2 separate regions of the Homo sapiens genome follow, and region 1 is linked to region 2. Evidence: fine-mapped expression QTL. A gene starts in region 2. The other region holds a variant in brackets. All regions are shown on one strand. Distances are between the middles of the regions. Region 1 overlaps TNFAIP2 (TNF alpha induced protein 2). Region 2 holds the start of EXOC3L4 (exocyst complex component 3 like 4).

The links. PIP is the estimated chance that this variant, and not a neighbour inherited with it, causes the effect.
Region 1: its variant is the best candidate, but not a certain one, in a credible set for the expression of EXOC3L4 in testis (GTEx, PIP 0.71).

What each region holds. Positions count from the first base shown.
Region 1 is chr14:103,128,396-103,131,295 of GRCh38, forward strand. TNFAIP2 (TNF alpha induced protein 2) reads left to right here. Exons shown (of 12, transcript NM_006291.4): 4 at 1,345-1,459; 5 at 1,607-1,729; 6 at 1,920-2,020; 7 at 2,657-2,755. Among named protein-coding and RNA genes, the nearest start is that of TNFAIP2, 6.4 kb to the left of the region's middle. RefSeq lists an enhancer at 1-580. The variant G/C (reference allele first, on the strand shown) is at 1,265.
Region 2 is chr14:103,093,441-103,096,267 of GRCh38, forward strand. EXOC3L4 (exocyst complex component 3 like 4) reads left to right here and starts at 1,285. Exons shown (of 12, transcript NM_001077594.2): 1 at 1,285-1,400. RefSeq lists enhancers at 154-723, 1,294-1,863.

The sequences.
Region 1 (2,900 bases), 35 kb after region 2:
TCCCTTGACTCCATAGATCCCTGGGCGTGCCCGTCATTCGCACGGTCTGCATGGAGAGAGGCTTACTGCAGTGTGGAAAGGCCCAGGGCGGGGGAGTCCAGGGGCTGTTATTGTGGGGCTTGGCCACTGCTGGCCCCAGATCCTAGTGTGAAACTTTAGGAAGGAAGCCTGGAGGTATAGACAGTGTGGGCAGTGTCTGCCGTCTCGGGGGCCTTGGGTGGCCTGTGGGCTCAGTTCGTGTTGAAGGGTCAGCCTCTGGCAGAAGGATAGAGAAAGGGTCCAGTGGAGAGGGTGGGAGAGGAGTCAGCAGGGCATAGGGGAACTGGCACAGGGCAGGGGCCACGGGAGAGATAACCCAGCCCAGAGCCAGTTCCCGCTTGCTCGTCCTGACTCACCAGGAAATGCCGGGCACCTGCACCCCTGCCTGCCAGTCTTTCTGTCCCAGTGACCTCGGGGTCTGCTGGCCTGGGGTTAGCAACAGGCAACTAAAGCCAAGCTGGGCATGGAGCCCTGGTGAGAGGGTGCCCAGGGGGGCATCGTTGAAGCCTGTGTGCCAGAAATGTGGGGAACGGAGGGACACAGCTGCATCTGGATTGGGTGAGGGGCAGAGAGAAGGTCATTTGTAAACCTCTAGGCAGACAAAGGGCCCTTAGGAAGTGCCAGGGCTGGGCAGTCCCCTGGGAGCTCTGGGGCGCTGCAGAGGCGCCAGGACAGTGAGCCAAGATGCGTCTGTGGAGCAGTTTGGGGCAGCCCTTCCTGCCCATTCTGGCCTACCCCTGGGATTGGGAGGTGGCCGGGGCTGGTGAGATGCCCAAGACCTGCAGGGCTGGAGCGCAGTGGGCTGGGAGCTGGCTGGATTCCAGGGCTGCTGTGAGTAGGAGCAGGGTTTTATCTGGGTGACAGGTAGTCTTGGAGCAGGAAGAAGATCAGATCTTAAAGGTGGCTCTGGCTGCTGGGTGAAGAAGGAATTGTTGGAGGTGAGGGAAGGAGCAGAGAGGCCGGGAGGAGGCTTTTGCAGTGAGCCAGCGGGGAGCTGATGGGAGCCGGCCAGGGCGCCAGAGTGGCATGAGGCTGCTGATTTTGGGGGCTATTTTGGAGCAGGACCTAATGGGGGGGGGGTGGTGAGAGAGTCAGAGGAGGCATGATGACTTCAGAGTTTCTGTTCCAAACCAAACTAAGTAGATGGAGGACCCATCATCTGAAATGGGGACCGGGTGGGGGTGCGGGAGGGTGTGCTGGGCAGTCTGGGCCTGCCAGAGACCAA[G/C]GCTGAGGGCCTGGGCTCTAGCTTGAGTGGTGGTGCTGATTTGGTATAGTTGTCCTCATGCCAGCCTCCCCTGCCTGCAGTGACATCATCAACAGCCCCAAGCTGGTGGGTGAGCTGCAGGGTATGGGGCTCGGGAGCCTCCTGCCCCCCAGGCAGATCCGACTGCTGGAGGCCACATTCCTGTCCAGTGAGGCGGTGAGTCTCCACCTGGGCCAGGGAGGGGCAGGGAGGCAGCAGAGGAGAGGCTCGGAGACAGACAGGACATGGGCAGGGAGCTTGACGGGTCTTCCAGGTGAGCGAGGTGAGGGATAGTGCCCCAGTGACCTGCCCCTCCTCCTCCAGGCCAATGTGAGGGAGTTGATGGACCGAGCTCTGGAGCTAGAGGCACGGCGCTGGGCTGAGGATGTGCCTCCCCAGAGGCTGGACGGCCACTGCCACAGCGAGCTGGCCATCGACATCATCCAGGTACTGCAATCTGCCCCAGGGCACACGTACCGCCCGTGCACGTGCATGGGGAGCCCCACGCACATTCCGTCCTGTGTGCATACCCATGCCCACCTCGGGGCACCCCCTCTGTTCCCGCCTGTTTCCTCCCCGTCCCCTGCCCCCTTGTCCAGGCGAGCCCCTGCTCAGCTCACCCACCACCACCCTGCAGATCACCTCCCAGGCCCAGGCCAAGGCCGAGAGCATCACGCTGGACTTGGGCTCACAGATAAAGCGGGTGCTGCTGGTGGAGCTGCCTGCGTTCCTGAGGAGGTGGGTGTGTGCCCAGGATGGGGTCCCTGTAGCCACCGCTCTCAGAGCCACGGCCCCTCCCTAGTGCCTCAGGTGGGGAGCTGAGCTGGATCCCCGCCCTCTACCCCTGTCCCTGTCATTCTGAGCCAGGAGTTGTTTCCCACTCAGCCAGGGCACTGAGAGCCTCAGGTGGTCTGACCTCCACCAGGATTCAACGTGGGAGCCTCTTGCGCCCACCCCATCAGCAAAGCTCTCAGCAGAGCAGCCTCTAGCTTCAAAGAGGATACCCCAGGAGGGACTGAGACCCCGCCACCCCTTCATACAACACTCCTAGTCTCCACCACCTGAATTCTCTCTGCTCTCTCCCTCTCGACCTCTGAGGGCTTCTCCAGCCAACCACACGCTCACTCCTACCTGGTCTCCCAACTCTAGAGAGGGCCTGGGAGCAGCAGAGATGGGCTGGTACCCTCTTCAGGAGCCCAAGCCTTAGCTTGTGAAGCCAGTTCCATGATGCCCAGGGGCTAGCGGCCCCTCCCTTGGCTATGGGCAGCCAAACAGAAAAGTGAACCCCAGGAGCTGGCAGGGAGGGCAGGGAGGCTGCTGCTGTGGTCCCAGTGTTTGGGCTGGTCCTGAATGTGCCCCTTCTGGTTTCGCCAGCTACCAGCGCGCCTTTAATGAATTTCTGGAGAGAGGCAAGCAGCTGACGAATTACAGGGCCAATGTTATTGCCAACATCAACAACTGCCTGTCCTTCCGGTGAGAGTGTTGGGAGGGGCTTGCGGGAGTGGGAGTCACTCAGCGGGCAGGAGAGGGGAGCTGGAAGGTGGAGGGAGGAGGAGCTGCTTAGGCCAAGAAGTGGAATTCAAACCAGCAACATGTGTGAGGACTCCACGGCCTGCAG
Region 2 (2,827 bases):
AAATATGGACACAGACACGAAGTGGGAAGGCCCTGTGTTGACCCAGGAAGAAGGGGGGGCGCTACCCACAGACCCAGAAAACAGCCCCAGGAGAAACCAGCCCCACACATGCCTTGACTGTGGGCCTCTGGCTTCCAGAACTGGGAGAGAATAAACGTCTGTTGTTGAGGCTCAGTCCCTGGTCCTGTCGTGGCAGCCCTAGGACACTGGATGCATGGGGCCGTCCCTGCCCTCAGCCCTAGGATGCTGGTGCACTGGCCTGTCTCTGCCCTCAGCCCTAGGACAGTGGGTGCATGGGGCCGTCCCTGCCCTCAGTCCTAGGATGCTGGTGCACCGGCCTGTCTCTGCCCTCAGCCCTAGGACACTGGGTGCATGGGGCCTTCCCTGCCCTCAGTCCTAGGATGCTGCTGCACGGGGCCACCTCTGCCCTCAGCCAGAGGATGCTGGTGCAGGAGGCTATTTCTGCCCACCTCAGCACCCTGCAGCAGCCCCATCACACACCCTGGTGGCCCCAGCCCAGGTTGGGACAGGCCTGGATCCGTTCTCCTTGGATTTTCCCTGAGTTGTTTCCTAAGACGCTCGCTGCGGAATCCCCCTATGCAGGGGTGAGGCTGCCTCTTCTGGGAAGTGTCAGTGGCCCTCCCTGCGGCACGTTGCCCGCCTGACCCCCTGGTGTGGGGAGTGGGGCCCCGCCTCCACATCTTTGCCCCTGCCCAGGATGCCGTCCCTTCTCACTTCTGAGTGTGTCCTGTCTGTCCCTAGGGCCCCATCCCTTTCTCTAGCTCCTGAAGCCCCCAGGAATGGCATGTGGCTCTCAACTGCTGCCTTTGCTGTCACCGTGAGCTTCCCTGACAGGCAGGGTGCAGGGGTCTCGGGATGAACTCGATGGACTGGCCCAGTGCTAGAGCCTCTGTCCTGGAGGGAGGGGTCCTTCTGGGCTCCGGCACTGTGGGCTGAGTGTCCCCCGAGGCCAGCGCCTGCTTCCGCTGGCCTCTGAGCAAAGGAGAGGTTGGTGGTGTTTTGGGTGGCAGGCAGCGTCCACCCCCTGCTGCCTCGAGACCCTGAGTGCCGAGCTCCGCAGCCTTCCCCTCCCTTGTTCTCTGACCCTTGGACTGAGCCCTGAGCTGTCTGGAATGGAAAGCTGGAGTGACTGCCTCCGGAACGAAAAGGAAGTGGGAACTTCTCTGAAAGTGAAAGTATGGGGTCCTGGTGGAGGGTAGGGCTGTGGGTGGGGCCGGGTGGGCCTGGCAGGCGCTGACCATGGCTGGGAAGTCCCAGCTGTTGGTCACTCGCTCAGGCTGCTCTAGAGGCCCCATAGCCAGGGCCCGGCTCTGAGGGCCCCACGGGCCAGCTTCTCAGGGGGCTGTGTTCTTCCTGGGCCAAGGCTGCGTGCTCAGCAGGTATGTTCTGGGCAGGTGGAGCAGGAGGGCATGGGGTGCTGTGGGCGGGCTTGAGGACCATTCCGGCTCTGCGTGTGGCCTTCCAGGCCAAGGGCCTCACTCAGAGCCCAGGCCGACCAGGCCAGAGGGCCAGCGCAAATCACAGTGGACACACACACACCCGATACACAGGCAGACACACTCAGGTAGAAAGCACAGATAGACAGACACAGAAGACACCAAGATGGGCATGCAGGCACAGACACAGACTCAGAAGCACTGGCAGACCCTCTGGGGACACTCCAGGGCAGAGTCATGCACATACAGGGAGACACTCTCAGGCCAACACACAGATGTGCAAAACCGACGCCCAGAAAAGTGTGTATATGCCCGCGCGCTCAAGCTCAGGCATCAGATTCACTTTCCTGGTTTCCCCGGGAAAGTGCCGAGTACTAGCCATGGCTGGGGGCTGAGTCAGGCTCACTCCCTGCCTTGCGGGTCTCCTGGTCTCCAGGCTCTGTAACTGTCCCTCCGTCATGGCAGGTGTGCCCAGGGCTGGGATCAGGCCCACAGCAGGAGGTGCCGAACATGGTATGGGCTCAGCTGGTCCGGGAAGGCTTCTTGGGGGAGGAGCCATTTCTGCTGAGCCTTCAATGAGTTGACAACTGAAGAAGGAGGGGCTGAGGTCATTGTAGGCAGAGAGGATGGCCTGTGCAAAGGTGTGGAGGAGAGGTGGGTACTTCTGAGTGATCAGAGTGAGGGAATGAGTTGGGACTGAAGCCAGAGGGGTCATTAGGAGAGGCCTTGAATGCCAAGCTAAGGATGGAGCTGTGCTTCTTCCGAGGGCAGCAGCGGCTCAGGGGGCTTATGCTTTGTTGCTACTGTGAAGGGAAGTCTTTTAAGTGTCTCTTTCTAATAGGCTTTGCTAGGGTATAGGAAAGGTGTTGCTTGTATTTACATAATCAATGCACAAAATTTACTAAACCCTTTTATTAGCTCCAATAATTTTCAGCCTCAGATTTTCTAAGCCAACAATCATATCACCTATGAATAATGACAGTTTAATCTGCTCCTTCCCAGTGTTTACATCTCTTATTTATTTTTCTTTCCTTATTGCCTTAACTAGTTCTTCCAGCCAAATGTTGAGGAGTAAGAATGGTGAGAACAAACATCCTTGTCATTTTCCTTATTTGCAGGGGCTGGAAGGAAAAGGAAAGCTTGCAAGGAAAGCTTTCAAAGGAGGTTTATAGGGCCGGGCATGGTGGCTCACTCCTGTAATCCCAGCACTTTGGGAGGCTGAGGCAGGAGGATTATTTGAGGCCAGAAGTTTGAGACCAGCCTGGGCACACATAATGAGACCCCTGTCTCTACAAAAAATATAAAAATTAGCCAGGCATGGTGTTGCGCACCTGTAGTCCCAGCTACTTGGGACGCTTAGGTGGGAGGAC